Homo sapiens: one gene and its partners. The protein of the gene in region 1 purifies or fractionates together with the protein of each later gene. This does not show direct contact. Each region holds a gene or a part of one and is shown in the gene's direction. Other genes may lie near its edges. The genes, in order: ADAMTSL3, SLC18A2, HPN and TMEM169.

Region 1 (7,865 bases):
TAGTAGGCCTCCAAGACCCTATTCCAGTGCTATGGCCAGACACATTCTGTTGATTGAGCCCTTGCTGTGAAGATTTAGTATTTTGAACACCATCTATATTATCTATAGTAATGGATTGACTATAAATTTACCAGGGAGTCTTCCATACATGTTTTTCAGCTTTTGATTGTTGAACAGTAGAAAGTTCAAAATTGTATTCTAGCCAAATTAGGGGAAATTTACATGGCTTAACTGGCTGGGCCATTTGACATACTTTGTAGATACTCTGTCTCCCAAAAAGTAAAAGTATGTATGTGGCAGTTCATCCAGCTCCACTTAGAGATGATGTGACAGAGCATTTTCAAGCAGAACCCTGGACCCATCCTGAGATCAATAGGCCTGACCTACCAATTGCATCTGTATGGAATTTGTATACAAACAAATTATGTATGTCCTTCACTGAGAACATTCTCTACCACAGAAATTATGGGTTCACCTCCATTGTTTCCCTGAACCTGTTGACACCACGAAACCCCAGTAGGCAGCCAGACTTCAAAGGGCTCATGAGGCGTGCAAGAGGACTTCAGTTATTCTCAGTTCTCAGGGTACCAGTAAACACACTGTAGCCAGCGCCAAGGGCCTGAGAAGGCTATGAAAGAGAAGTCTCAATCTGCTTCTTCTCCCAGCGTGTGCTACAACAAGGAGGACCTGTAACTGGGGTCCCCCAAGGTAAATTAGGTCCCCATTGCATGACCTTCTAAATCCAGAGGTATTCTTGATGTTAGTCCAGTATCTCTTCTGCCACTCACTAGTGCTTCCAAGCCATCCATCCTACACTCCACAATCTGCTCAGGAACCTAAATACATCATCAAAGAGGATCCAGACTTCCACCCATATCACTGTCCTTCTCCCATGCCTACCTCAGAATCACCCCAGAACACATTGAGCCTTCTCTCAGGTGAAACAAGGGAGAGAAATACTTCTCTTGGGGACAGGATCTGAGAAGTATTGTCTTTGGGCCTAGCCCATTAAGAGGAGCCGATCGATGCCCAGGAACAAGTCAAAGCCAACCCCATCTCTGTTCCCTCTTAGTCTTCCCTGCTGTGCATTGGCTGCACCTGCCCTTGTCACCAGATCAGTGGTGGCAGCAGTTATATATGAGAGCTCATTATGTGCCCGCTACTGTGCTGTGCACTTGATATAAACAATCTGACTTAATTTTTACTTCCCTCCCATTGAAAGCACTAACATTATTCACATTTCACAGGTGAGGAAACTGAGGCTCAGAGAGATGAAAGAATTTGTCCAAGTGGCAGAGCTAAGATTCAAACTCAGGTTTATCTGACTTCAAACTGCCTATGCCACCTGTTCTTTTTTGATCACGGCTACCCATTGCTTCTTCAGACCCCCATGCCAATTTAATCGACATATTTGGGTTATATTCTGCAGCTGGCCAACCTCAGCCTCCTTTCAGACCCTTCAAATACATTTGCTCACATTCCCACTCTCACTTCCTCCCTCAGATTTGGGGTACCCATGGCTCTAAGCCAGAGGGCCTCTCTGCCAGATAGTAGAGACCTGACATATCAGACCCTTATTGATGGAAACATGTACCCAGAGGCTGGGTATTTATGGAGCCATTATATGAGCATGGCCTAGAACAAATATTCCTCAAATCTAGAAATAACTATTCCCTACATTTCACCAAATCATTTAACCTCATGCCTCCCCAAACCAGGGTTTTATCAAATCACTTACACATTTTCATGCACCTCATTCACACTTGCATTCTTTGCCACTAAAGTACTAGATAGTTGTGAAATTTACCCCAATCTGTGGATGTATAATGTTATTCATGGTTTTATTCTTGAATGTTTTAAAATAGTAAAAAAGATACGTTTGTTAGCCTGTATCAGCCTTGAAAGATTACTGTCAAAAAGTCTGTATTTTTGAGATGTTTATTCGTATTTTCTTTTCTTTCTTTTTTTTTTTCTTGGAGAAATCAAATCAGAGATGAAGACAAAACTTGGTGAGCAGGGTCCGCAGATCCTCAGTGTCCAGAGAGTCTACATTCAGACAAGGGAAGAGAAGCGTATTAACCTGACCATTGGTAGCAGAGCCTATTTGCTGCCCAACACATCCGTGATTATTAAGTGCCCCGTGCGACGATTCCAGAAATCTCTGATCCAGTGGGAGAAGGATGGCCGTTGCCTGCAGAACTCCAAACGGCTTGGCATCACCAAGTCAGGCTCACTAAAAATCCATGGTCTTGCTGCCCCCGACATCGGCGTGTACCGGTGCATTGCAGGCTCTGCACAGGAAACAGTTGTGCTCAAGCTCATTGGTACTGACAACCGGCTCATCGCACGCCCAGCCCTCAGGGAGCCTATGAGGGAATATCCTGGGATGGACCACAGCGAAGCCAATAGTTTGGGAGTCACATGGCACAAAATGAGGCAAATGTGGAATAACAAAAATGACCTTTATCTGGATGATGACCACATTAGTAACCAGCCTTTCTTGAGAGCTCTGTTAGGCCACTGCAGCAATTCTGCAGGAAGCACCAACTCCTGGGAGTTGAAGAATAAGCAGTTTGAAGCAGCAGTTAAACAAGGAGCATATAGCATGGATACAGCCCAGTTTGATGAGCTGATAAGAAACATGAGTCAGCTCATGGAAACCGGAGAGGTCAGCGATGATCTTGCGTCCCAGCTGATATATCAGCTGGTGGCCGAATTAGCCAAGGCACAGCCAACACACATGCAGTGGCGGGGCATCCAGGAAGAGACACCTCCTGCTGCTCAGCTCAGAGGGGAAACAGGGAGTGTGTCCCAAAGCTCGCATGCAAAAAACTCAGGCAAGCTGACATTCAAGCCGAAAGGACCTGTTCTCATGAGGCAAAGCCAACCTCCCTCAATTTCATTTAATAAAACAATAAATTCCAGGATTGGAAATACAGTATACATTACAAAAAGGACAGAGGTCATCAATATACTGTGTGACCTTATTACCCCCAGTGAGGCCACATATACATGGACCAAGGATGGAACCTTGTTACAGCCCTCAGTAAAGTAAGTAAAATAAAAATGCAGTATTCATTTTTGCACTACCTTCTTAATGGCTATTCCAGTTTTCTTGAAAATATTTTCAAATTCCTCTCCTAAGCATGTGTTTCCAACAGGATTCTTTAGGAAAGAAACTAAAAAATGTTAAGATGTGTTTTTCACATATACGTTGGAATTTTTAAATTCAACCGCCATATCATCCCAATCACTGTCGTAGAGGTGTGATATGACTGGATCCAGCAAGAATAAGTTTAAGCATATATACACTCCCCCTTTACTCAGCACTTGGCATTTAAAAATAAAATCAATATAAGGCCATTTTAAAAGTAAGCTTATTAATAGTAATCCTACATTATGTTGGAACTGCAAATCAGAATTTACAGAGCTCTTCCATGTCTAGGAGATGTGGTATCTTATTTGAGCTCACATCAGCCCCATGAGATTGGCAGGGCAGGGGTTAACCTTTCTGATGAGGTAATTGAGAAGCAGAATCCCATGACTACTTCATGGCCAATCAGAACCAAGGGCCGTATCTCTTGAATACCCACCAGTGGTATTTGAGTATCACACAAATACGTAGCCTTGTCAAAAGCTTGGGTATCTGAAGTAGTTTTCTATTATCATGCAATTTTTAAATGTCATACAATCCAAAAATAAGAATCATAGTGTTTTGAGATGTTCAAAACACAGTATTAAGTCACATATTATTCTGATCTCTATGCCAGTGTAAAAATGTCACATTTCCTTTATTTTACATAACAGATACTAATTTACTTTTGCATTCTTTATTGCCTTCAAATCTTGCTGTTTGTATACAAAGTACTATAGACATTGTGCCTTCTTTTGATTCACATGTAAGAGCTCCAGCTCTACCTTATCTGCCTTTAGAGATCGTTAAGAGACACAAATAACACAGCAGATGTGAAACTGTTTTGCATATCACAAGGTACTTTCAAAATGCAAGTTTTACTTTTATCATGTCCTTTGTGCATTGAGCCTCGTATGTGAAACATCAGAAAAAACTTAGGTAAAATTCAGTTTTTTAAAATAATAAACTATTAGGCTATATCTTAAAAAGGTAGAAAAAATCTAATTTTTGAATTTTTAATGCTAGAACTATGAACACAAGAGTACAATGAAATTTTAGAAGTAGAATAAACCTTAAAACATAGCAGTTCTCAGAGCTTTTGGTTTTAGACTCTTTAAAATTTAAAAATGATTGAGGAGCCTAAAGAGCTTTTGTAAATGTGAGTTGTATCTATTGCTGTTTACCTCACTAGAAATTAAAACCAAGAAACATTGAAAATATCTCCATTAATCTATTTAGAAAAAATAATGGGCCTATAACATGTTCATACAAATAACATATTTTTTGAAAACCCTCCCCCTGCCACCAAAATTACTGATAACAGTGGAATTGCTTTCCATCTTTGCAGATCTCTTTAATGTCTGGTATAATAAAAGAAGACAGCTGGATTCTTTTTCCACATCTGTTGTGAAATGTTGTTTTAGTTAAAGTATATGGAGAAAATAAATGTGTGCTATACAAATGTGTTAGCTGGAAGAGAAAGAATATTTTAATATCTTTTCAGATAATTGTGGATACTCTTTAATTCTACACTAAAACTAGACAAAGGGTCATTTCTCAAAGGTTAGTTGAAATGTGCAATCTGAAACTATATTAATGAAATGTTGGTACTCTGTTTAATGAAATCTGCTGTTTTTTTCTTGCATTTTGAATAGACTTTTTACCCATACAAGATTTTTTAACACCATACATTGGTCATTTGGAAAATATTGGCTCACTGAGTGATACAGGCCTTCCAAATGTTGGTGCATTTCATTATGCAATGTAAAAAAAATACACATTTAAAAAAATCACCGTGTATCTCATAAAAAAAAAAGTCTTTAAGTTTTGGGAAGCTGTCAGACTTACAGTGGTGGATACCAGTTTTCCAAAATTCTAATTTTCACATCAAACCTTTTTCATCATTGGCAACAAATACTGTCAGTTGTGTCATTGAATTGGCCAGCTCATTTAAAAAATATATATATATATATCTACCAAATACCCAACTTTAAATCATAGTGTGGACTTTTTTGTCATAGTTTATTGGTCATTCTTTCAAGTAAAAATCATATTCCATGAAAGAAGCCACCAGTTCTTCAGCATGCAGTGGAAGTGCTTTGTGTGTACTTCCCATTGTGTCGTATGGGATATGAAAAACGTATGGACCCAAGGGTCAAGATTTAGTAAGATTAATACCTTTTACTACTTCATTAAAGACATTTCTTTTTTTTTCTTTTCTTTATTGAGACAGTCTCGCTTTGTCACCCAGGCTGGAGTGCAGTGGTGGCATCTCAGCTTACTGCAACCTCTGCCTCCTCGTTTCAAGTGATTCTCCTGCTTCAGCCTCCCAAGTAACTGGGATTACAGGTGAACACCACCACCCCCAGCTAATTGTATTTTTAGTAGAGATAGGGTTTCACCATGTTGGCCAGGTTGGTCTTGAACTCCTGACCTCAAGTGATCCACCCACCTCGGCCTCCCAAAGTGCTGGGATTACAGGCATGAGTCGCCACGCCTGGCCGTTAAGGACATTCTTAAGGGAAACTGGCATTTTTTTTTTTTCTGCAAGTAAAACATAGTAGTCAAGAATACAGTAATTACTGGTACACTTCAATATCACTGTCTTGGTTCATGCTAAGGTGCCAGCAGTCTTACCAACACTGCCTTTGCACTCTCAGTGCAAAGGTCAATACCGTTTTTAAAAAGGCTAATTAATGGCTTCGTATTATTATAAAACTAGCTTTGACTTCATAGACTTCTGGGGGGTTCATGGACTATGCTTTGAAGACTGCTAACTTGGTTCAATAATCCATTTTATAAATTGTAAGGAAAGAGAGGCTGACAAGGTTGAAGTGATCTGTTGACCTATGGCCATATAAGTACTACAATGATATAGAGGAGCCTGGTCAGTTTAAATAAATATTTATTTGAGTTCATTTTAAATAGATTGACTTGATGGAATGGCGTTAACATAAGTTTATCAGGCTGAGACCCCTGGAGCTTGTATAAAGAAGTTTTGACATGGTACATCCTCCTTAGATGTGTTTCTGCATCCTTTAAAGATCAGCCATTCAAAACAGAAGCAATTTCATATGTCTAATAAAAGGTTTTGTTTTTAATTTTTAAGATAATAAGATCCATTTTCATTTCTATTTTTCCTCCAAAACCTACCCAATTAATTTGTTCAATTTATGTTTAATTCCCTTTACATAACAAATGTTCTCATCTTTAAATATACTTTCTGAATCTTACAAATCTTTTCAGTTGAAGTAATTGAGAAATGGAATTATGTTCCTGAAAGCCTCATTCAATGAGAGAAACTGTGTAGGCATGGAGTACTGTTCGGATGACAATTGAGTAAGAAATCTCAACTAGGAAGAGAAGTTTGTGGGTGTATCAATTAGAGATGGTGCCTATAGAAAGATCAACTTTGTTATTACTTCAAGTTAAGAGTAAGATTACGCAGCAGAGGCCAAGGTCATATGTGTTACAGAATTCAACCTGGTGGTTCTCCAGCCCAAGGACAGATCCAGGCTAGGTACCCAGTGGCCCCACCTGTCATGTAAGGTTCACGCATGCTCAGCTATTTCTGATCTCAATGATTTCTCACTGGACTGTTACCTGAAACCTACAAAACAAAGGCATTATTTGAGAATTCCTAAATCATGCAAACATATATATGAAATAATTTAAGAAAATGATTTAATATGTTTATTTTTCATGTGTAGTCACTGGTTAGACTTTTGCTTTTAACCAACTATTTCTCCTCCATCAGGATTTGACACTGAAAATCTTGCCTTACTAACAGCGAGGTCTGCCATACTCTTGTTGCTCTGAGACACTTTCGCTGTTTTGACTTCTGCCAGCTTTTGTATATTTCTTATGTGTGCTGCAGCAGGGCTTGTATGCTCTTGGTACTATTGCTCTGTGCCATTATTTCATACTATTCTAATCATTCATACATTTAGTCATCAAAGATTTTTGAGAACTTGCTATATAAAAGTCTAAGCAGTGAGTATGCACAGCTGTGAATAAGATTTGGTTCCTGCCCTTGAAAAGATCACAGTCTAGTGGGAAGAAATAGATATTTCATCAAATAAATATATGAACCAGAGAAGAAGGAGCCCAGAGGAGACAGAAGATAACTCTAGGAGTATTGGGGAAAACTTTACAGGGGAAATTACATTTGATCCAGGACTCAGTGGGCGGGTCTGAGTTTGCCAGAAAGGAGGAAGGGCATTTCAAATGAAGTGAACAACATATGCAAAAGCTCACAGTAATGAAAGATCATGGAATGTTCTGGAAACAGTTAAGGTTCATTATGACTGAAGCATAGAGCGAACGACATGAAGTGACAGGAAATAAAGAAGTGGCACAGTTCATTTCATGATGAAACATACAGTATTTAGAGGGCAGAATAGTCCATATTGCTAAGATCTATGAAGTGAGATGGGGCAGGGGAAAAATAGTATATAAACCACTGATCCGGGTGATTTAGAAGCAGATTCAAATTATTAAGAATAAAATAAAATAAAAGAACAAGCACTCTTCCCTTCCTAACAAAGGTTCTTCTCACCTTTAGATATATTTTCTGAATCTCTGAATTATTATCTAATTGGTTAGGCTACACCTGACCAACTCTGATTCTCAAAGCGGTATTTACACACAGGATTTTAGGAATATCAGTAATTGGGAAACCATAATGAACTCATGCAGGTTAGCCCTAATTCTTAACAGCATGGTCCAAATC
Region 2 (7,865 bases), on another chromosome or scaffold:
TCCAGATTGGGTCCCCGACGGCGCTCGCGGGCGCTCTTTCCAGGGAGCGCGGGCTCTCGTGGGGACGCGCTCGAGGCAGGTGAGCCGAGGCTGGGGCGCCCGGGGGTGTCCCCGGATGCCGGTGCGCGCGGCTCCCTGACCCGCCCTTCCGCGGCCTGGGGGACGGGAGAATGGGGGGTCCACGGCCGCCTTGGGTCCTCACCGCGCACCGCGCCCGCAGCGGAGCCCCGGAGCCATGGCCCTGAGCGAGCTGGCGCTGGTCCGCTGGCTGCAGGAGAGCCGCCGCTCGCGGAAGCTCATCCTGTTCATCGTGTTCCTGGCGCTGCTGCTGGACAACATGCTGCTCACTGTCGTGGGTACGTGCGGACAGGGCACCCCTGCCCCGGCACCCCAGCCCCAGCGCCCCTTCCCCGGCACTCCACTTACCCCTGCGCGGTCCCGGAGCTCCGCCAAGGCCCGGGAAAGTTGGAGAACTCGCTTTGCAAAAAAGACATCCCCTCCAGGCTGCCGCGCCGGGGCTAGGAGGAGCCGCGTTGTGTGGCTTCGCTTTCCTGATGCTCGGGTCAAAAACTGTGACATCCGATAAGACCCAGAACTTATGTTTCCCCCTGATAATTTCCCGCATCCTCTTGCCTGCTTTCACTGCGATGAAAAAGATTTCTGTTCCAAAAGAGAAATTCCTAAAGTTCAAAATTACGTGTTAGAATAATTATTGGGCTACTCGAAAAGGCAGGTTAGTAATTTGGTGTAGTACCTAAAAGAGCAAGTTTCGATCCCTTACTCCAAAAACAAGACATTTAGATATACTGTATTAGTGAATGACTTGAGATGGAAATATTTCAGGAACCATTGCAAGAACAATTTGAACAATCTTGGTTCTATTATTTTTCCTATAGTGGAATTTTGAAAAATTAAATAATCGAAATCCAGGTCCCTTAATTAGGCCCATTAACAGAGAAGTATTTGGCATGCATTTCCTTAAAAAAAAAAATCCCAGTTTTTAATGAATGAAAAAAAAATCACGACTCATTTAGACTGTAAGTGGTGGGAGCTGTTTCCTTTCTCTCCATTTGCAGGTTTTCTCACAGCAGTTTTCAGAGCATCTGATAGGTTTCATCTCGAGGAGTTATCAGAGCCGTGGAGCTCATCCCTGTTCAGTACCAACGGCATTAGTTCTGCTTCGGCTCGAATGCTCCATTGGACACATGTGCTCACAGCTTCGATTATATGTTTCACAATTTAATTTGTATTTTTTGTTGTTGCTTTTTATTTTGGTTTTTGTTTGTTTTTTTGAAATGGAGTCTCACTCTGTTGCCCAGGCTGGAGGGCAGTGGCACAGTCTTGGCTCACTGCAACCTCCACCTCCCGGGTTCAAGTGATTCTCCTGCATTAGCCTCCCGAGTAGCTGGGTTACCGGCATGCCCCACCAAAGCTGGCTAATTTTTGTATTTTTATTAGAGACAGGATTTTGCCATGTTGGCCAGGCTGGTCTTGAACTCCTGACCTCAGGTGATCTACCCGCCTCGACCTCCCAAAATGCTGGGATTACAGGCCTGAGCCACCGTGCCTGGCCTGTTTCAGTTTTGCTTTTTCCTTGTGAAAGCCTTAGGAATTCTTAAATCTTACAAGTTGTAGGAAAAATTACAGATTCCCACTCATAATAGAAGGATGAAGTGGGCCTGTTGCAGAATTTCCAAGTTATTACTTCCTGCAGGTTAATTTTTTTCTAAGACACATAATGAAGTGTAGTTTTCTGTTTCCTTGATTCATTCATTTGAAAGTCTTTTGAGCCTCTCTTTCTTAGAAGCACTGGTTGACTCCAGGTCAGCACTCTCTTAACGTCAGGCCACATTTTGCTTTTCTGAAATATTCCTTGAAGGAACAATGTGGAAGAAACCCACAAATGACAGAATCTCTGGGACCAGTCAGTTCAGCACAGCAGCTGCCTTTTGAGAGGAGACAGTTCTCAGGGCCGTTGGGGGCATGGTTCTTTCTAGTGAGCTAAGTAAAGTGAACTTGCTCCAATGTCGTTATAGACATATGGCACAGGGCTCCTGTTTTGGGGTAGACCTGTCACCCTCTGGACCTCTTCTGGCATTTGACACAACCATAGTTTTGTTGTTGTTATTGTTGTTTTGTTTGTTTGAGACAGAGTCTCACTCTGTCACCCAGGCTGGAGTGCAGTGGTGCAATCTTTGCTCACTGCAACTTCCACCTCCCAGGTTCAAGCGATCCTCCTTTCTCAGCCTCCAAAGGAGCTGGGATTACAGGTGGGTGCCACCACGCCCAGCTAATTTTTGTATTTTTAGTAGAGAGAGGGTTTCTCCATGTTGGCCAGCCTGGTCTCGAACTCCTGACCTCAGGTGATCCACCTGCCTCAGCTTCCCAAAGTCCTGGAATTACAGGTGTGAGCCACTGCTCCCTGCCGACACAACCATAGTTTTTTGCTGGCTTTTTTCCTGGAGAGGGTTTCAGTGTGATCACCACCTTGCCATTCTGCTCTTATCCCCAGTCCCCATCATCCCAAGTTATCTGTACAGCATTAAGCATGAGAAGAATGCTACAGAAATCCAGACGGCCAGGCCAGTGCACACTGCCTCCATCTCAGACAGCTTCCAGAGCATCTTCTCCTATTATGATAACTCGACTATGGTCACCGGGAATGCTACCAGAGACCTGACACTTCATCAGACCGCCACACAGCACATGGTGACCAACGCGTCCGCTGTTCCTTCCGACTGTCCCAGTGAAGACAAAGACCTCCTGAATGAAAACGTGCAAGTTGGTCTGTTGTTTGCCTCGAAAGCCACCGTCCAGCTCATCACCAACCCTTTCATAGGACTACTGACCAACAGGTAGGGCAGACTACTTTAGTCAAAGAGTTTGATATTTGTATCAGTCCTAGCTTATGTCCTTCCTGGAATTCTGCTTCTTACTCATTGGTGAGAGTCTGGAAAATCCATGGTGGGTGAGCTGGGGAAAACCCAGTCCCCTTCCCCTATGTCTCTGTTCCCAGATAACCACAATTTCCTATTCTATTCTCCCTTCTGTTGCTCAACAAGTAAGAAAATATTAAAGAAGACAGAATAAAGAGGACCTCTTCCACCAAGTGGGAGGACTTTGGCCTGTCTAAATGCCAGGTTTCGTAAGTGCATTTGTCAGAATCGCCCTTGGCAGCAGGAACTCTACAGCCACCATGGCTGTCATCCTATTTTATGAGCCATGTGGCCTCCTCTTATCTCCTACCTCAGGCCATGCACTTCTCTGTAGAGAGCCAAGGTGTCTTCTTTTGGAACTGGCATGTTAAAGCCTCTCACAGATACCAGGTAGGGAGTGTGGGAAAAGGTTGGACGCACTGGTGCGCAGATGGAGCTCCGAGTTGATGCCGAGGTCATGGGCTGTGTTCTTCCCTTCTGCTGGCTACGTAGCCACGTCCACGTGCATGAAAGGAAGAGAACTGAGGCTGTTGTCTGGATAATCCAAGCTGCCCAAACTAGCTTCAGATGAATCAGGCTGTTCTAGATTTTTTTGAACCCACATTGTTTGGAATAACTGTTTACTTCTCCATTGTTGGTGAAGTGTTTGTTCTTCTGTAGCTGAGGTGGACCAGTTCTGCCTGGTCCGTGGGGGCTCAAAGCTCAGGACAAGGGCCTTGCAGCTGAGAGGAGGAGGCAGGCCCCCAAGGTGTCAGTGCAAGGAGTGGGAGCTGGTACAGTTAAGTGTTGGTGGTGGGCTGCCAAGTGCGCAGTGTAGCTACCTAGGTGAAAGTTACAAAACACCAGAAATGGTGGGGAGGGGTGTGCCCAGAGTCCTACCTGCAGACCAGGCCCAGAAGCAGGAACAAAGACTAGACTAGAGATGGAAGAGATGGTGGCGAGGAGAGGGTGGAACTAAGGAGGCAGGGGAAACCAGGGCTGGGCTAGGCTGTAAGAGGCCCCAAGTGCTGGGCTGAGAAAGGAGTGGGATTCTGTGTGGGGCAGTTGGGAGCCATTAGAAATTCCAAAGCCAAAAAGAAATGAGTGAATCAAGCACTATTTTAAGCAGGGTAGGTGGGCAGGGAGCAGGGAGAACTTCACATTTCCTCTGCCTTTGGCGTGGGGAGTGGGGCGCAGGACTGGCTGCATAATTTGTGGGTCTCGGTGCAAAATGAAAATGTGTGCCCCACATTCAAACATTATGAAACACTTCAAGGTGGCAGCAGAGCATTAAATCAACCAAGCTCTGAGAGCAGAGCCCTGTGCGACTCTAGGGTTAGGGGCACCGAGAGGTGAGGAAGCCTGGGGTGGTGGCTGGGGCTCAAGGAGGGGATGGCAGATCTGGCCTTCCGCCAGCACAAGCTGCCTTGGACACATGGAGCTTGAGTCGGACAGGAGCACATTCTCAACATCTGCAGTTGAATTTTCTGGATGGAAGGGTGCCATTGAATTGATTTCAACAATCTCAAGCCATGTCCAGCCCTCTAGTCTGTGCAGAGCAATATTCTAAGGCTGCTACATAAAACATGCTAAGCAAATTAACCCAGCGAAGGGCTGACTGTGAGCCCATTAAGAAGGTGACATTCAGTGACTCCTCTGTTCTCAGGAGAAAAACCAAACCGACCTCAGTAGTTGCAGGATTGTTTTCTTTCCTTTTTTCAAGACTAAGAATGCTTCTTAAAATGCATCTGGTATAATTACAGAAAATAGCTCAGGGTTTTGTATTCTGAGAAAGCAAACAGCTCAAATATTGTATGTGAAAATTGAGGACATTATCGTAATAATACCTTGCCAATCACTTGGGTGGAACGTTACTAGCCGTACAGTGTAATACTTAGAAATTCGGCTGAAATGATGTGAGTACTCCAATCTTCCAAACGCAAATGGCAAATGAAAAGCTTTTTTAAAAATCCCATTCTTATTTTTAATGCTTTGCTTATGCCATGGGGAAGAGGCTTGTTTAAAACCAGTGAGCTCTTTCCCCTGTTAAATACTCCAACGGCTTTGAGGCTGTAGCCACACCAGGCTCATGTTTGGGACTTCAAAAACATTATCTTCCATTTTGTGACTTGTGAAATTTAGTCTATTCTCATGGTGAGTAATCCACTTTAGAAATTATCTAGAGCAAAATTGTAATCCCCAACTGTTTTGTCCAGCTACCGAGCAAATTTGAAAATGATTTTCTAGTGCTGCCTGGTAATATGGAAGGACAAACAAATTTTTTTTTCTTTTTTTTTGAGATAGAGTCTTGCTCTGTCACCCAGGCTGGAGTGCAGCAGTGTGATCTTGGCTCACTGCAACCTCCACCTCCTGGGTTCAAGCAATTCACATGTCTCAGTCTCCTCAGTAGCTGGGATTACAGGCGTGCACCACTATGCCTGGCTATTTTTTGTATTTTTTGGTAGAGACGAGGTTTCACCATGTTGGCCAAGCTGGTGTCGAACTCCTGACCTCAGGTGATCTGCCCACCTCGGCCTCCCAAAGTGCTGGGATTACAGGCGTGAGCCACCGCCCTCAGCGAGCAAATAAATTTTCATATTGTGATCCTGATTTGTAATTTGTCTCATAATTTCCAAGCCCAGTAGATATGAATTTGGGGACTGGGCAGCTCTTCTGGACACTCCAAGATTCTGCTTCCCACCGCAGTTCAGATGGATTCAGAGAAGGGACAAATGTGCATTCCATTTGCCTTTAATTGTCTTCAAGGAGTTAACTTGTGAGCCATTGCAAACAGTCTTTTGATGTAAACTGTGCCAATCACATCCTCCATGAGCAAGATGTATGACTCAAGTCTTCAGTGTTGTAAACAAATGTGTTTAAAGGCTTTTTAAAATTGGTTAATATGTTTCTGATTAAAGAGTAGTTAAAAATATGGAGCATCAGAGCTTGCAGAGACTTTTCCTGAAAGCTTTTGGGCCAGTCCTAGCATTTTATAGGCAAAGGAGTTTGCAGTTCAGGAGGAGAAAGCATTTACCACAACAGTGGCAGGACTGTAGCCACATGTTCCGACTGTCCCATTTCAAGCTTTGTTCTTCCCCGCTTCCTGTTCTTCCCACCTGCTTACAATTATACAGCTTGTACCTTTAGCTACTAGAAATAAAGAATGCAGCTCAAAATCTGTCTTTCTTGCACTGACTTGGGCTCTTCCTGGTTGTACCAGGCAGAACTGCTGGAGACCCAGTGAGTTGCTGATTTTGCTACTTTTAATCAATGAGCAGAGAGTTTAGAAAAGATCAGCCTGATTCCTGTGGACATGGAACCTCCCTGGTCCCTGAAATATTCAGTCTTTTTCCAGTCCCTGATGTGAACTGGTCCAGCCTCGTGCATCCCTAAAGATGTGTGGGGAAAGCTTCCTGTAGTCAGGCTGGGCAGAGCTATTCTTTTCCAAAGCTGCTTGTTTTAACTGAAGTGGGACCCACTCTGAATCGAGACATTCTACACCACACCACACCATAACTGGAATCCTCTATTCACAGTCGTGATGGTGCCATGTGTGTGGCTTTTGTGGGTAGGAGTCACAAAATGTAGGCCGCCTGTTTATTTATTTATTTATTTAGACAGGGTCTTGCTCTATTGCCCAGGCTGGAGTGCAGTGGGGCTATCTCGGCTCACTGCAACCTCTACCTCCCAGGTTCAAGCAATTCTCCTGCCTCAGCCTCCTGAGTAGCTGAGACTACATGCCACCATGCCTGGCTAATTTTTTTTGTATTTTAGTAGAGATGGGGTTTCAGCATTTGGCCAGGCTGATCTCGAACTCCTGACCTCAAGTGATCCTCCTGCCTCAGCCTCTCAAAGTGCTGGGATTACAGGCGTGAGCCACCATGCCCGGCCCTGTCTGTTTTTTTTAAATATTCGATAAGTTCTCACACCAAACCCTGAAAATATAGAGTAACAATTCTTGGGTTCATTTAACTGCTAATAGGATGCACATTCTTCCTGTTTCATTTGTTATTCAGATCCTGTATTTCTGCTGAAAATATATGACCAGTTAGGTGGCAAAAACCTTTGATTTGGGTGTGTGTAGTGATGACCTGGCCAATAGCACACTTTCCAAGAAAGCCTGAGGTTGCTGGATTGACCTGATTTCCATGTTGGAACCTCTTGCCTCCTATTTTATAATTTTGGCTGAACTATTCATTTCATGATTGCAGTTGTGTGCAGGTGGTACCAGAAATTATACTAGTGATACTTGGTCATCATTTGGTCTAAGAAGCAAATTTTAGATATATATGTCCATAAGAGGAAAGTTCCAGGCACATGAACAATGGGACAACACGTTTACATTTCTCTCTTCCCTCAGTCAGGTAACGATATGGCATTGTGGTCTTGCTTAGCATAAGGTTGAAATAATAGTTGCATCTTCAGAACCAAAAGATATTCCACACCAAACGACTGGCTTGGGAAAGAGTTAACTTCATTGCTGGGGACCGTTTCCCTTGCTTCCTTCTTAGCTTGTCATTGTCTCAGTGATCTGCTTTTTATCAAGCCAGCGTCAATGGCTTAATTTATTTCCATAGTTACTTAGTATATTTGAAAGCAGTTCTTTTTGCTTGCAAATCTTAGCTAACATCTGAACGACAAGGAGGAAGCCACAGGGCATGAAATCTCTACGAAATCTACCATGGTTTTATTTTATTTTTTTGCTAGCTTCAGCCAGTGGGTCTGAAGTGGGCTGTGTAGGAACAAGCAGTGACCTTTTCAGCTTCTCTATGGACAGGGAAACCGGCTGTTCTGAGAAGAGATCTCCCATCCTGCATGTGGTTAGGATGGTAGGGAGGGCTTGATGAGTCTTTGCTTCTGAAATCAGAGGAAACTGGCTGTGGAATTAGAACATTCCTAGGAGAAGCAAAAGCTCTGTTAAGCTATGTGTCAGAGAACAGGGCTCACGCC
Region 3 (7,865 bases), on another chromosome or scaffold:
TGGCCTCCTCGGGTCTCGGCACAGCTGGCAATTCAGACCCCAAACCAATCAGCTGCAGTCCAGAGGGAACCCAGGCTCCCAGTTACTCAGGAGAAGGCATTGCACCCTAGCCGAGCAGGTGGATGACAGAATCCAGCTCCTTGGGGACAATCTCTTTCCTGGAGCTGCCGGAAGGACAGCCCCAGGGCTTGGGCCCATGGGTGAATGAGCCAGGGAAGAAAAGCAGAAAATGCCCGAATGGACAGAGATGGCCTGGGTACAAAGAGAAACAGACACAAAGTGGGCTCTGGTGCCTCCCTGGCAGCTCCGGGCTGGTCTTGGAGGGGAGTCCTGCTGTCAGGGCTAGGGGTGTGGAGGTCGAACCTGGACACAGATGCTGAAGGGTTCCGATTCTGCACTTACTTGCCGGGTGACCCGGGTTTGGTGGCTGCCGGACTTTGGGCCTCCTTTTCTCATCTGTAAACTGGGGGTGATGGCAATGGCGCCTTCCTCGTGAACAGCTGCAAGGATTTAAGTAAGGATGCTGTGCAGGACTGGACGGGGTTAGGGTAGGGCGGTGCGTCCGTGTGTGATTCAGAGAGCCGTTGTGGCTGCAGCGGCTGCTGTTGTTGGTGTCACTGTTATTGCTGCTGGCTTCTTGGTGCTGCCTGGAAACTTGGAATTGGAGGAGGTGATACTGGAGTTGCAATTCCAAGGATGCCAGGCAGAGGGAAGAGCAAGGCTCTTGCTCTTCTCTGGGAAGCTGGGAGGTGACACAGCACTGGTGTGCACGTAGCCAATTGTGGTATTTCTGGAGGTGAAGCTGGAAGTTGAGCTGGGTGGGAGAAGAGGTGTGCAAGCTGGACCAGGCAGGGGTGGGACTGTTTTGGGGAAGAGCTGGCCAATTCCTTGCAGTACCAGGTCTCTCCACAAGGTGGCGCCAGTGGTTAGTCCCTGCTTCTCTTGTCTAACTTGTATTTTACAAGTTCTACTGTTTGGGTTGCTTTTTGGAAGCTCTCTCTGGTACCTGATAGTGACCCACATGGTTGTCTGAGAATTGGGGGAAACATACTCCCAAATCTCTGAAAGCCATGCTTATACCCTAGTGGGGCTGGAAATGCCAGGCTGAGGGACTTAAGCTGTCTGGGGGGTACTAGGGAGTCACAGAGGGTTCTATAGGTAAAGAGGGGACAGGTTGGATTTGGTGTCTCAGTAGGTTCCCCAAGCCTCCGTGTGGAGGGTGCGCTAGAAGGGAGACTGAGCCCAGCGGTTGGATGGGGCCGGAGCAAGGTGCAGATGGAGAGAAAGAAGGAAACGGGGGAAGGAGAGTCACTCAGGAGGATTGGCAGGCTGTCGGGGGAGGGGAATGTTATGCAGATGGGGATGGTCCTAGGAGTGAGGGCCTCTGAGACAGGACCGGGAGGAAGAATATACTTGGGGAGACATTGGGGAGACATTCTGGGACCTGGTAGGGGCAAAGGGACTAGGAGGTCCCAGGGAAAGGTATTTAAAAGGTATTTAAAGGACTGCAGGAGCCCTGACCTGGGACCTGGAAGAGGGTCTAGGGCTGGGGACAGAGGGGAAACTGAGTCCACAGAGGTGGGTGAGACAGACTTAGGGGCAAGGAGGAGCAGGGGGAGGCTGCGGCCAGCCCTACAAACTCTGGATTTTACGGAGTAGGTAGAGGGTGGGTGAAGACAGCAGCCTCAGAGGCGGGAAGGAAAATCAGGTGCGCCTGGTGTCCCAGAAGTCCAAAGAGGAGAGCATTTATACAGGAAGCTGCAGTCATGTAAGATGAGGCCCGAGACACGGAGCCACCAGTTGAGTGGATTTTCAGAGCCAGAGAGCCAAAGGTGTTACGCGTGGGGGTCTTTGCAGCCAAATGGTGGAGGCGGAAGAACTGACCTATGAGAAGACCCAAGGCATCCAGAGGGGCCTGGAGAAGCAGGGGCAGAGAGTCTCAGGGAGATGTAGGGGTGGGGGAGGTCTGGCTTACCAAGGGAAATAGCCCTGCTGCTGGGATCAAAGAATTGATGTTGACGTGCCGCCTGTCCCAGTAGAGACACGCAGGGAGGATGAGGATGCGTCCCACACCCTGGGCCAGATGAGGATGCTGCCTGTCCCAGTAGAGACACGCAGGGAGGATGAGGATGCGTCCCACACCGTGGGCCAGATGAGGATGCTGCCTGTCCCAGTAGAGACATGCAGGGAGGATGCCTCTCATACTGGGGGAACCCCAGGATGCAGATGCTTCCTGTCCCACTGGAGGCGCTGAAGTCCTCTGAACCACACAGCATGGAAGGAGGTTCTTCCTCTCACCCTAGGAGACACATACATAGTGGCATTGCTTCCTGTCCCACCAGATGTGCCAAGGCCTCTAGGCTGCATTCTGCATGGCCTAGAGCCCTGGCAGGCACAGCTGAAAACAAAGCAAGCAAGACCAGCCCAGTGGCTGTCGGGAGCCAAGACCTCCTGCTGGAACCTGGAGAGTGGTCCTGGGCAGAGTTGGGGGGCAGGCCTGAGAACCCCTCGCAGGACAGGCAGGGGTCAGCCGGCAGTAGTTGGGCTGGTCTGGCCCACTGGGGCCTCTTTTGGGGAAGAGAGTGTTTCCTCATGCCTTGATGGGAGCCACTGAGCTTTCAATTTTTTTTTTTTTTTAATACAGAGTCTCGCTCTGTTGCCCAGGCTAGAGTACAGTGGCGCAATCTTGATTCACTGCAACCTCCACCTCCCGGGTTCAAGCGATTCTCCTGCCTCAGCTTCCCGAGTAGCTGGGACTATAGGCGCCCGCCACCACACCCAGCTAATTTTTGTATTTTTAGTAGAGGCGGGGTTTCACCATGTTGGCCAGGCTGGTCTTGAGCTCCTGACCTCAAGTGATCCACCTGCCTCAGCCTCCCAAAGGACCGGGATTACAGGCATGAGCCACCATGCCCAGCCTGAGCTCTCAAATTCTTAAGACACCCAGATAATGGCCACACCAGGAAGGTCCTAGACCACTCCCTGCTCTGTTCCAGGTGCTGGCCTGGTGCCGGGTTCACCAGCCACATCACCATGGGTGCAGATGGGCGAGCTGGGAGCTCCTGCCACCTTGGGGTGCTTTGCGGCTGCCAAGGGCAGTTGAACCCAAGCCAGGCCCAGCTGAAGGCTTTCAGCAGCCTTTACTCTTTGGCCTTCTTATAATCCCTAGTGAAGGGGTTGGCTTTTATTTATTTATGTATTTATTTATTTATTTATTTTTTGAGACAGAGTCTCGCTCTGTCGCCCAAGCTGAAGTGCAGTGGCGCGATCTCGGCTCACTGCAAGCTCTGCCTCCCGGGTTCAAGCCATTCTCCTGCCTCAGCCTCCCGAGTAGCTGGGATTACAGGTGCCTGCCACTGCGCCCGGCTAATTTTTTGTATTCTTAGTAGAGACGGGGTTTCACCGTGTTAGCCAGGATGGTCTCGATCTCCTGACCTCGTGATCTGCCCACCTCGGCCTCCCAAAGTGCTGGGATTACAGGCGTGAGCCACCGAGCCCGGCTAGGAGTTGGCTTTTAATCTCCAGGACCTCTTTGCCCTGGGAATAAAATCCCTTTTCCTGTGCCACCAGGCCTCCCCAGCTGGCCCCAGCCTTGGTTCCCACTACCTTCCCCAAGCTCTGGCCATCTGGCCATCTCGATGGCCTCTCCAGCCTCTGACATAAGAGAGCCTGCTTATTCTTGCCTCAAGGCCTTTGCCTGTGCTGTTCCCTCTGCCCACAGTGCCCTTCCTTGTGGTCTGTGTGTGGCTGGCACCTCACCTTTCAGAGCTTAGCTCAGAAGTCTCCTCTAGGGGAGGCCCTGTGATCCCTGATCCCCTGCAGAAGCCCACCTGCTGCCCCAGCCTGCACGGTTTTCTTCACAGCCTCTGCCACAATCTGGAAATTATTGGGTTCATTTACTTGTTTCCTTGTTAATGTCTCCCACTCCCCACCTACACGCATGAGAACGTGAACCCCTGAGAGTCGTAACCTTATCTGTCTTCTTTGGGTTATGTTCCCGGAACCTAGAAAGGTGCCAGGCACACAGCGGATGTTCAGTAGGATGGTAAACAAATAAAGCTTCTTTAGGCTGATGAAAAAACTGAGGGTCAGGCGCGGTGGCTCACGCCTGCAATTCCAACACTTTGTTTGGGAGGCTGAGACAAGCAGATAACTTGAGTCTGGGAGTTCACGACCAGCCTGGTCAACATGGCAAACCCCGTCAATACAAAAAATACAAAAATTAGCCATGTGTGGTGGTGTGCGCCTATAATCCCAGCTACTCGGGAGGCTCAGAATTACCTGAGCCTGAGCGCTTGAGACTGCAGTGTGCCATGATCGCGCCGCTGCACTCCAGCCTGGGCAGCACAGTGAAACCCTGTCTCAAAAAAAAAAAAAAGAAAAAGAAAGAGAGAGAGAGAGAAAAAGAAAGAAAGAAAGAAAGAAAGAAAGAAAGAAAGAAAGAAAGAAAGAAAGAAAAGGAAGGAAGGAAGGAAAAGAAAAAAACTGAGGCTGAGGCTCAGAGAGGGGAGGGGAGTTGCTCAGGCCCACACATCTCTGATGATTTATAAAGCATTTATAGAGAACTTGCTATGTGCCAGGCACTTCCGCACAGTGAGAGCCAGGATGGCTTCGTGGCTGTACACAGGGGACCTGGCATCAAACCTGCCCAGGGTTCTGGACGCTGCTCTGCCTCTTCCAGGCTGTCACTGTGGGCACGTGACCCCACTTCTCTGAGCTATCTCAAAAACAGGAATCATAGTTGTGGGATTGAAATAAGGACTAAATGAGCTGATGTATTTAGAACGGTGCTTAGCACCTGGAGGCATCAATACAATTTGAGCTATTCTTCTTCTTCTTGAAAATAACTTTAAATTATTATTTTTAGAAGTAGGTGCTCAGTGGATGCCCATTTAATAGATAAGAAAGTTGAGGCTCAAAGATATGATGGCACCTGCCTTAGGTTCCAGCTAGGAAGGGGTAGGGTCAATATTTTTAAATGAGGCTGGCCAGACGCAGTGGCTCACTCCTGTAATCTCAGCATTTTGGGAGGCTGAGGAAGGAAGATCGCTTCAGCCCAGGAGTTTGAGACCAGCCTGGGCAACATAGCAAGACCACGTCGCTAAAAAAATTAATACATAAAATAAAATGAGGCTGGCAGATTTTCAAGTGGAGGGGCAAATTTGATCTTGCAACTGGGTACCATGAGAGAGGTCTGATTTAGGGGGTATCTAGGGGCAAAGCATCTAGAACAGCAGAAACGACTGAGGCAGCGAGGAAATGCCAGCGGCAGGGAAGAGAGCTACCAAGAGGGCAAAGGTTGGGGGTCACAGTCCCAAGAAGAGATGGCCCAAAGCAAAGACAGAAATACAAAAGCACAGTGTCACTGGGGAGGAGACATTCCCTAAGTGCCAGGAAAGTGCAGGGCGGAGGTGGAGACCGTGGCAGGTGGCCCGGCCATGCCCCCCTCCCAGCTGGAACCCTGGGGGAGCTGGGCACCTGGTTGTTCACACGGCAGGGGAGGAACAGCCCTGTCAACTGCTGGCCCCGGGAAACTGGGCCTGGGGAGGACATGCTTGGGCATAATAAGTTAGCCCTGGGGGCAGGGCAGAGCTGGCCTCGGGCCCAGACCCTGCCGCAATGAGGACAGGCCTGGCTGTGGCCCCAGCATGGTGTCTGTTGCAGGTGGCCGGACTGTGCCATGCTGCTCCAGACCCAAGGTGGCAGCTCTCACTGCGGGGACCCTGCTACTTCTGACAGCCATCGGGGCGGCATCCTGGGCCATTGGTGAGAGCGGTTCCTGTGCCTCTGACCTCCCCTGGCCCCTGCAGCCTCCAGCCTGCCTGCCCTCACCCCTCCCTTCTCTGCAGTGGCTGTTCTCCTCAGGAGTGACCAGGAGCCGCTGTACCCAGGTGAGTGGAGCAGGCTGGGACCCTCTGGGGGAGCCCTGGAGGACACGTGTATCTGGCGGGAGCTCAACAAGCGTATTTGTTGAATAAATGCACAAATGCATGCAGAAATGCTAATCATAATAGTGCATTTGTATTGAGTGCCTGCTATGTACCAGGCACTATTCTAAGCACCCCACATGTCTAACCCAGACTTTTTCAGACACCAGTGTATTACTCATGAGTGCCTCATAAAATTAAATTAGTGAGTTGGAAAACCATGTTTTTTTTTTAAGTATGAAATAGATTCGATTACAGACTATCACAGTACATCTCTCAGTAAGTAAAGGTTATGCTAATTTTTGTTTGTTTTTTTTTTTTTTTGCATCCATATACATGTAATCCCACTGCATCCCCACACTCTGAGGGTGGGACTGTTATTCTCCCTGTTTTACAGATGGGGAAACTGAGGCTTTGAGCAATGCAGCAGTTTGCCCCAGACTACAGAGCTATGGGCTACATCAGGATGTAAAAATGTGTTTCTTACTGCGTGGCATGGTGAAAACATGTTGGGGAGGCATGATATAAATTCAGTGGACCCTTCTAACTCTCCTAGGAGGTAGTTTTTTTGTTTGTTTGTTTTAAAAAAGAAAAAAGTCTTGCTCTGTCACCCAGGCTAGAGTGCAATGGTGCAGTCTCAGCTCACCGCAACCTCTGCCTCCCAGGTTCAAGCGATTCTCCTGCTTCAGCCTCCCAAGTACCTGGGAATACAGGCGTGTGCCACCATGCCCAGTTAATTTTTTGTATTTTTAGTAGAGATGAGATTTCACCATGTTGGCCAGGACGGTCTCTATCTCCTGACCTTGTGATCCACCCGCCTCGGCCTCCCAAAGTGCTGGGATTACAGGCATGAGCCACTGCGCCTGTCCCTGGTAATTAGCTCCATTTTACAGATGTGCAAAATGAGGACCAGAGAGGACATGCAGCTGGGGAACGAGGGGCCAGGAACAGCTCTTAGACTTATCCACTGTAAGTGTGTCTGCAGGCATGTGGAATGAATGGCCACACAAATAAATAGATAAAGAAACTAACTGTGGGATGAATGAATGAATCTTCCCAAATGCCAACTTCAAGCTGCCATTCCCTGATGCAGGACAGCAGGAAAAAAGGGGAAGTTGGGTGGTGGGATGTATTTTTCATGTCTGTGAGCCTCATCTAATTCCATAAAGGATTCAGTTCACACTAAAATCAGAAATGAAAATCCAGACAAGAAAAGCCAACATCAACATTAATCATCATTACCAGCACTTAGCATTTGTATGCACCAGCCAAGGCCTTGGGACCTTATGATATCAACTCATTAAGTCTTCCCAACAACCTGTTGTTTTTCTTTTCTTTTTTTTTTCTTTCTTTCTTTCTTTCTTTTTTTTTTTTTTTTTTTTGAGATGGGGTCTTGCTCTGTCGCCCAGGCTGGAGTGCAGTGACACGATCTTAGCTCATTGTAACCTACATCTCCTGGGCTCAAGCAATCCTCCCATCTCAGCCTTCTGAGTAGCTGGGACTATAGGCTAATGCCACCATGCCTACACAAAATTATTTTGTCAATAACAAATTATTGTTATTTTTATCTTTTTGAGCCAGAGTCTCGCTGTGTCGCCCAGGCAGGAGTGCTGTGGCGCGATCTTGGCTCACTGCAATCTCCATCTCCCAGGTTCAAGTGATTCTCCTGCCTCAGCCTCCTGAGTAGCTAGGACTACAGGCACGTGCCACCACACCCAGCTAATTTTTGTATTTTTAGTAGAGGCGGGGTTTCACCATGTTGGCCAGGATGGTCTCAAACTCCTGACCTCAGGTGATCCACCCGTCTCGGCCTCCCAAAGTGCTGGGACTACAGGCATGAGCCACCACACCCAACCTCATTTTTTAAATTTTTAGTAGAGATGGGATCTTGCTACATTGCCCAGTCTGATCTTGAACTCCTGAGCTCAAAGCAGTCCT
Region 4 (7,865 bases), on another chromosome or scaffold:
ACAGGCATGAGCCACCGTGACCAGCCTGTTAATAATCTTTAGACTGGAAGTGGAAGTGGAAGATGGGCACAGCTTAACTGCCAGAGAAAAGAACAAAGTCCTCTCTCTTCTCTCAAGTCTATTGATTAAAGCCTTGGAAATTGGGTAAAATTTTCTTTTAACCTCTCTCTTGTGAAATCTAAAAGGAAGGAGAAATGTTTAGAACCTGCTTCTCAGATCAAATACTTACAGCATAATAAAGTATACAAAAATGGGGAAGAGAATCAAGCCTTTCTTTCTTAACAGTTGTTTATGTCATATTTCTGGTAAGACATTTTCTCTTCTGTGTCCTATGAAGTCAACAAGTACATACTGACTTTGTACTACATGTCCAGCCCTGGGGTTTTCCCATTGGTGGTTAAGAAGAAGAGTAAGACAGTTCCTAAACTCTAGAAGTTTGTTATCTACCTAGAAAGATGAATGAAAACTCATGATGCCATCTATAATCTATACAATGATATGAAATGCTGCATAATTAAGTATTAAGTGTATGGTTCAGATGGCAAATGCTATTAAATTACAAATAGAAGGAGGCAAAAGAAAGGGAATAGAAACTAATATTTATGAAGTGTCAGTCACATATTAGGCATTTTATACTGGGCCATTCATTGAATTCTCACCACACACCTGCAACACAGGGTTAGGGTGGGAGGAGAGGACGTGGGGGCTGGGGTAGTCACAGAAGGGGACGTGAGCGAATGAGTCTGTCTTGAGCCAGGCTTGAAAGATGTGGAGAAGCGTGACAAAGATGAAGAAACCAACATAAGCACATGTGTTGAGTAGTCACGTTGCAGGAAAGGGAAGGGGAAAATTGCTACTGAATCCTAGGGTGGGGTGCAAATACGGAGAGCCTCAAACACCAGACAGGCCTTCAGATATATTTTAGTCAGTAATGGCAAGACAAAATAAAAATATTGTTTTGTTTTGTTTATTAATCACCATTAATATGGTAAAAAATGGTAGAGGAATGTCTTCCATTTTAGAATGTCTTCCAGTTTAGAGGAAGTAGTATGAAGGCTGTATTCTGGCATATGGTGGTAGTAGAAATTCAAATGAACAAATTAACAAAAAGATTTCATAGGAATGACTAGCAGGACTTAGAGACTAATTATTATTAGGTATATGGAAATATGTCCTTAATATAGGAAATGGGTTCATCAAAGAACATTCTAGAAGTTTATAGATCTTTGCATAAATGTTGGCGGGTAGTATGGCACAATGAAAATAACATGGGCTTTGAAATTAGCAAACCTGGGTGTCAGTTCCAGTCCCACCACTATACTAGCTATGTAAGCTTGAGCAAATTTCTCCTCTAAATGGGAATAATAAAGGTACCTACTTCACTGGTTTGCTGTGAATATTGAACAATACGATTATTGTAAAGTACTTAGAGCAGCACTTGGCACACAATAAACATCCAATAAGTTTCTGTTGTTACTATTATTCAGTCCAAGTGTCCTCTTCTGCAAAATAATACTTGCTTCATAAAATTGTTGTACCTAGGCTGGTATGGTGGCTCACACCTGTAATCCCAGCACTTTGGGAGGCCGAGGCAGATGGATCACTTGAGGTCAGGAGTTGGAGACTAGCCTGGCCAACATGGTGAAACCCTGTCTGTACTAAAAGTACAAAAATTAATTGCACATGGTGGTGTATGCCTGTGGTCCCAGCTACTCAGGAGGCAGAGGCACGAAAATCGCTTGAACCTGGAGGCTGAGGTTGCAGTGAGCTGACATTGCACAACTGCACTCCAGCCTGGGTGACCAAGCGAGACTCTGTCTCAAAAAAAAAAAAAACAAACAGGCCGGGTGCAGTGGCTCACGCCTGTAATCCCAGCACTTTGGGAGACCGAGGCGGGCAGATCACAAGGTCAGGAGATCGAGACCATCCTGGCTAACACGGTGAAACCCCGTCTCTACTAAAAAAGAAATACAAAAAATTAGCCGGGCGTGGTGGTGGGCGCCTGTAGTCCCAGCTACTCAAGAGGCTGAGGCAGGAGAATGGCGTGAACCCGGGAGGCGGAGCTTGCAGTGGGCTGAGATCACGCCACTACACTCCAGCTTGGGCGACAGAGCGAGACTCCGTCTCAAAACAAACAAACAAACAGACAAAAATTGTTGTACCTAGAACAACTATGCAATATATAGCACATAGTGTTGCTTAATAAATATTTACTGAAGCTGGGCACAGTTGCACATGACTGTAGTCCCAGCTACTCAGGAGGCTGAGGTGAGAGGATTGCTTGAGCCTAGGAGTTCAAGTCAAGCCTGGGCAACATAGAAAGACCCCATCTCTAAAAATAAATGAATACGTAAATATTTTTTGAATGTGTAATTCAGTGAGATAATGCATGTACTGTATAATCAACACAGAACCTACCAAATTACACAATCGGTAAATTCCATAAATGTTGTGGTGTTTCCTTCTTTATCCCTTTCTCCTTTCCTTTCCCCCTTCTCCTTTTTTCTCGGTAACACTGAGAGGTTCTCTGCTGTAAATAAAGATGAGTTTGGTTTGAACATGCTTTGCTAAATAATTCAATTAGAAAATATTCGCCAGGCTATTGGAGATACAATCTTGAGATCTACATTTGGGCGTTCTTGGCATAGAAGTGGTCCTACAGCTGTGTGCAGGAAGGCTGTATATTTTAACAAGAGGAACAGAGTGTGCTGTTGAGAATAGAGGACAATGAATTAAGAATCGGGCCTAGAAAACACTGGCAATTATGGGTTGGAGAAAGCAGATAAGGGAGCAAAAGAAACAGAAGGAAGGTTTGAGAGGTAAAAGAGAATGAGAGTAGAAAGTTAAAGGAGGTGAGGGAAGGTTCAAGAAAGATTTGGGAATTAGTGGAATCAACAGCTTTGGTGTGACAAGGAGAATAAGAATGGTGAAGTGGTCACTGTGATCACATCAGGGACTTTCAAGACTGTTTCTCACCAAAATGAGTGGATCTGTCATCAAATGAAGGAGAAATAGGGTTTTGGACAGCAAACAACAGAACCAAAAAACCAAAAACCATCAGCTGTTCACTGCAGCTACTACCACTTGACTACTTCTATTTTTAATTTTCATTTTATTTTATTTTACTGATTTTATTTTTGAGACAGAGTCTCACTCTCTCGCCCAGACTGGATGCAGTGGCACGATCTCAGCTCACTGCAACCTCCACCTCCCAGGTTCAAGCGATTCTCCTGCCTCAGCCTCCTGAGTAGCTGGGATTACAGGCGTGCACAACCACGCCAAGCTACTTGTATTTTTAGTAGAGACAGGGTTTCACCATGTTGGCCAGGCTGGTCTTGAATTCCTGACCTCAAGTGATCCGCCCATCTTGCCCTTCCAAAATGCTGGGATTACGGGCATGAGCCACCACACCTGGCCTTGACTTCTTCTAAATCTTGGTGGGGAAATCCTGGACTTTAGAGTTATGCAAGTATAGAATTAAACCCAAGTTCTCTCACTGCTATATTTAACGCATTGAACCTAATAGGTCAAGTGTGGAAAATAAGACCTACCTGTCAAGCTTGTTGAGAGATGCAAGTAAGAGAACATCTATAAAGAGTTTACCTTACAGCCTGACACATAAGGCTCAATAAATGCTAATTTCCTGGCCTATTTCTCATCTTTGCAAGTGACTTGCGCGTGTGCGTGCGTGCATGTGTGTGTGTCTGTGTGTGTACAGAGGTTGGGAGTGGGGAGAAAGGGCAGAAGATTGCAGGATGAACTGGATATGAGTGGCTATAAACTATTTGATAGAAAAGCTTGGTTGGAGAAAAATGAGATTATCAGAGAGAGTAAAGTGGCAAGGTAAAGTTATTTTTTTCTAGATAAGGAACTCTGAGTTTGAAGGCAAAGGGGAAAGAGCCAGTAGAAGGAAGTTGGAGCTATTGGAGAAGGAGGAAATCAAAGATGAGGAAGAGATGGGGATCAAGAGTCAAGTTGGGGTGGTCAAAGAAAATACCTGTTTTCAGACCACTCATGCTGGGGAAGGCCAGCCACTGTTGTAAGGACACTCAGATGGCCCATGGAGAGGCCCATGTGGAGAGAAACTGAGTCAGCATTACATGAGTGAACCATCTTGGAAGCAGATCTAGCCTCATTCAAGCCTTCAGATGACTGCAGCCCTGACATCTTTAGAGATCTTGAAACAAAACCAGCTAAGCCACTCTCACACTTCTGACTCAGAGAAACTATTTATAGGAATCCCACAGAAATGTTGAGAAAATTCTATTCACAGAATACTAAAAGGTTCAGAAACCATAAAAACAAAAAAACACTTTTGGACCTCCAAATTCTATAGGCAGGAAGCAGGTAGAGAAGACTACTCACCACCCAGCTAAGGCACTCCCAGTTTATTGACGCACATAATTGTGTGAGATAATAACTTTTTTATTGTTTTAAACCTTTACTTCTTGGGTAATTTGTTACATCACAACAGATAATTCATATTCTTGTACTGTGACATCTGATATATTCCAGACTTGCAGGAAACTAACAGTAAAAAGGATCCCCAAATTTAGGAAAACACTGTTTTTACAGTAGCCTTGATAACAAGTAGCCACCAGAACTAGTTTTAAACATGTTCAATCAACAACTGCCTAAGTGAATACATTTTTGAAAGCCATCATCAGAGTGCCAGACCCTGATTGGCCAAAAGTCAACTCACACTAGTGTGAAAGTCAGCCAAACAGGGACAGAGCCACTCACCTGATTGACTTTCAGAAACAAAGGACTGACTGGATGGGTTAATTTCCAAAAACATGTTTGCTGAGTGTTATGGTATGGTTTGTTTTCCCCCCAAATCCATATGTTGAAATTTCAGCCCCCAAAGTGATGGCATTAGGTGAGGCTTTATGTCATGACGGTGGAGTCCTCAGGAATGGGATTAGTGCCCCCATAAAAGAGACCCAGAGGCTAGGCTCAGTGGCTCACACCTGTAATCCCAGCACTTTGGAAGGCCAAGGCGGGCGGATCATGAGTTTGAGAGCAGCCTGGCCAATATGGCGAAACCCCATCTCTACTAAAAATACAAAAATTAGCTGGGCATGGTGGCGTGTGCCTGTAGTCCCAGCTAATTGGGAGGCTGAGGCAGGAGAATTGCTTGAACTTGGGAGGCAGAGGTTGCAGTGAGCCAAGATTGCGCCACTGCACTCCAGCCTATGCGACAGAGTGAGACTCCATCTCAAAAAAAAAAAAAAAAAAAAAAAGAGAGAGACCCAGAGAGCTAGTCAGCTCCTTCAGCCACGTGAAAACACAGTGAGAAGGCACCATCTATGAACCAGAAAGTGAGTCCTACCAAACCCCTAAACTTGATCTTGGATTTTTTGCTCCCAGAACTGTACAAAATAAATTCTTGTTGTTTATAAGCTACCTAGTCTATGGTATTTTCTTATGGCAGCCCAAATGCACTAAGACACTGAGGGAGATTGTTGTTGATCAATTGAACAGGTTTAAAACTGGTTCTATTGTCTACTTACCATGACTACAAAATAACCCATCTTTTCCTAAGTTTGTGGGAATGTTTTGTAGTCTCAAAGGATAGTGTTCTAATTGTAGGGAGATGAGGAAATCATGTTTCAAGGTAAATCAAGGACAGTGTCTCTGTCCTGTGACTACTGTAAGTAGACATTGGCTGGGCACCTTTCTAAAATGAGCTGTGCCTGAAGCAAAAATAGCCCCCCTAAGGTGAATAGCCAGGAGCTCACCCTTTACATTTCATATTTCTTGTCTAAGGTTTTAATGGGATGTTCAAAAGTCATCTCTCTTTTTGCCTCTGATAGGATTGTCCCTCTCCTCCATCAGCCAACAAGATGACCATGTTTATCTTTTATATCCCCAAGAGACTCCAAAGCTTCTCTTAGCTACTATTTTCTGTACTAGTCTGTCCCTGGGCTCAGGAAGCTCTTCCTGTTATCTAACATTGGCCTCTCCCATTGTGCCCAACCAAATCAAGAGTGTCGAACACTACACCTTTTTATGTTTTTTTTTAATTAAATTAATTCTTTTTTTGAGTGATTCGCCCGCCTTGATCTCCCAAAGTGCTGGGATTACAGGCATGAGCCACCGCACTTGGCCACTTTTTAATGTTTATAAGGCCCATTAATAAGGGTCATCATCTCCATGCATGTGTTCACTTTGCCCTGCCACATCTTCCTAGAGCACCACCCCCTCAACAAAGAGAGAGGAAAAGGGAACAAGAAGTATGAGATTTGCAACTTGCCTTCTCACGTGTACTCTTTAACATTTCTGTCTCCCTTCTGAACATCTTGGTACATCTTTAAAGAAGGAGTAAGGAGTACAGAACATAAACCTTCTCCCAGCTCTGAAGCTCTGGTCCTTTAATCTCCTCGGGGTCTCAACCCCTAGTTTGAAAATTCATGCTGTATAGAAGGGCCAAAGAAGGCCCTTCACAAGCTGCCTCAGAAAACAACAGAGAGAAACAGATGATCTAAGTAGGAAAACACGGTGGATTAGGGTGGCCTCCCAAGCTGTGATCATTGCACCTTCAAGTAAGTACAAAGTGGTTTGTTCAGAGGTCATTCCTACCATAGAATTACCATGATGCAGCTTTCTGAGTGTCAGTGTATAAGAGGACTTGGACCAGGGAAAACATTTTTGTATTAAACATAGACACTTAGAGAGTAGAATTACAAATGTATGTATATACACATTTGTATATAAATATACATATGTATAAGTACATATATAGATATACATATATATGTATATCCTGGAACTTAACGTAATAATGAAGTGTGTGTGTGTGTGTGTGTGTGTGTGTGTGTGTGTGTATACATATAAAATCTTCACCTGGGGGTGGATTGCATTCAGCCTCCCCATTCAGTTTCCTCTGGGTAGAGGTCCACTGTCCTCTGTGTAGAAGCCACTTTGGTAGAAGAGCCCTGGTCAAGCTCATCAATGCCCAAGGCCTGCTCAGCATTCTAATGGTTGGATTAATTGTCCTCTGGAGCTATTTACCTTGGGAGGGCTCTCTCCCCTGCTTCTTCCTGTGTACATCCTTGTACTTTTAGACACCTCAGCCAAATGAATCTCCTGGTCCAGAAAGCTCCATGGATAAGAATTTAAAGATAATGGCTTTCATTCTGCCCCTAGTACACCCCCTAGACAAAGTCAGGCAGTGAGGACGTAGTGAAACCTGCCCATTTCATCCTGTGGATCCTACCACTAAGATTCTCAATTGTGTCGCTGGGTGCCTGATTTATTCCAGGCATTGGGTTAAGTGCCCAGTTATAAAGTTAATTTAGATCCAACATCTGCCAATCCAATGGAAAGACAAAGAAAATCAACAGAGGCTAGAGGAAATACTGGGTGAGAGGGCAGCAGAGGAGAACTCCCCTGCCTGGAGGGGGAGAAAAAGCCATTCCATTGAGCTTAAAATTTACCTAAATTTTAGAAACATTGAAATGAGAAAAAAAAATATGTATTCTGGCATTTTAAGAGATATGCTATACAGTACTTCCTGTCACATGGTAATTACCAAAGATATATAAATTTGCTTCAAAATGAATGGAGCCTAGTGGAATTCTAGAGCCTAGTGGAATTTTTGCTTCTTTCTTCTCTCCACTGCCCCACTCCCATCCACTGGGCCAGAACACTAGACATTGGGAACATTTGAATACACATGAGAGAAGAAGCTTTATTATTGGAAATAAAGGGATGGCAAATGGTGTACATGTGGCAGTAAAATAAGGCTCAGAGAGCACTGAAATACAGTGAGGGATTTGGGAGTTGGGAACAAAAGTAACAGCCAGTAACCTGGAGTTGCTGAAGAGTGTACAGCCTCGAGGAGTGTGGGGCGGCAGGGTTGT

The links.
Region 2: the proteins of ADAMTSL3 (region 1) and SLC18A2 purify together in Homo sapiens (co-immunoprecipitation; one large-scale study listed by IntAct). This does not show direct contact.
Region 3: the proteins of ADAMTSL3 (region 1) and HPN purify together in Homo sapiens (co-immunoprecipitation; one large-scale study listed by IntAct). This does not show direct contact.
Region 4: the proteins of ADAMTSL3 (region 1) and TMEM169 purify together in Homo sapiens (co-immunoprecipitation; one large-scale study listed by IntAct). This does not show direct contact.

What each region holds. Positions count from the first base shown.
Region 1 is NC_000015.10:83,980,294-83,988,158, forward strand, and holds part of ADAMTSL3 (ADAMTS-like protein 3 isoform a precursor), read left to right. Parts: intron 1-1,979; coding exon 1,980-3,051; intron 3,052-7,865.
Region 2 is NC_000010.11:117,241,459-117,249,323, forward strand, and holds part of SLC18A2 (synaptic vesicular amine transporter), read left to right. Parts: intron 1-202; exon of another isoform or gene 203-220; 5' UTR 221-235; coding exon 236-356; intron 357-426; exon of another isoform or gene 427-539; intron 540-2,512; coding exon 2,513-2,855; intron 2,856-7,865. UniProt on the Homo sapiens protein: Electrogenic antiporter that exchanges one cationic monoamine with two intravesicular protons across the membrane of secretory and synaptic vesicles.
Region 3 is NC_000019.10:35,043,626-35,051,490, forward strand, and holds part of HPN (serine protease hepsin precursor), read left to right. Parts: intron 1-5,637; exon of another isoform or gene 5,638-5,664; coding exon 5,665-5,766; intron 5,767-5,849; coding exon 5,850-5,891; intron 5,892-6,820; coding exon of another isoform or gene 6,821-6,896; intron 6,897-7,865. UniProt on the Homo sapiens protein: Serine protease that cleaves extracellular substrates, and contributes to the proteolytic processing of growth factors, such as HGF and MST1/HGFL. Plays a role in cell growth and maintenance of cell morphology.
Region 4 is NC_000002.12:216,086,337-216,094,201, forward strand, and holds part of TMEM169 (transmembrane protein 169), read left to right. Parts: intron 1-7,865.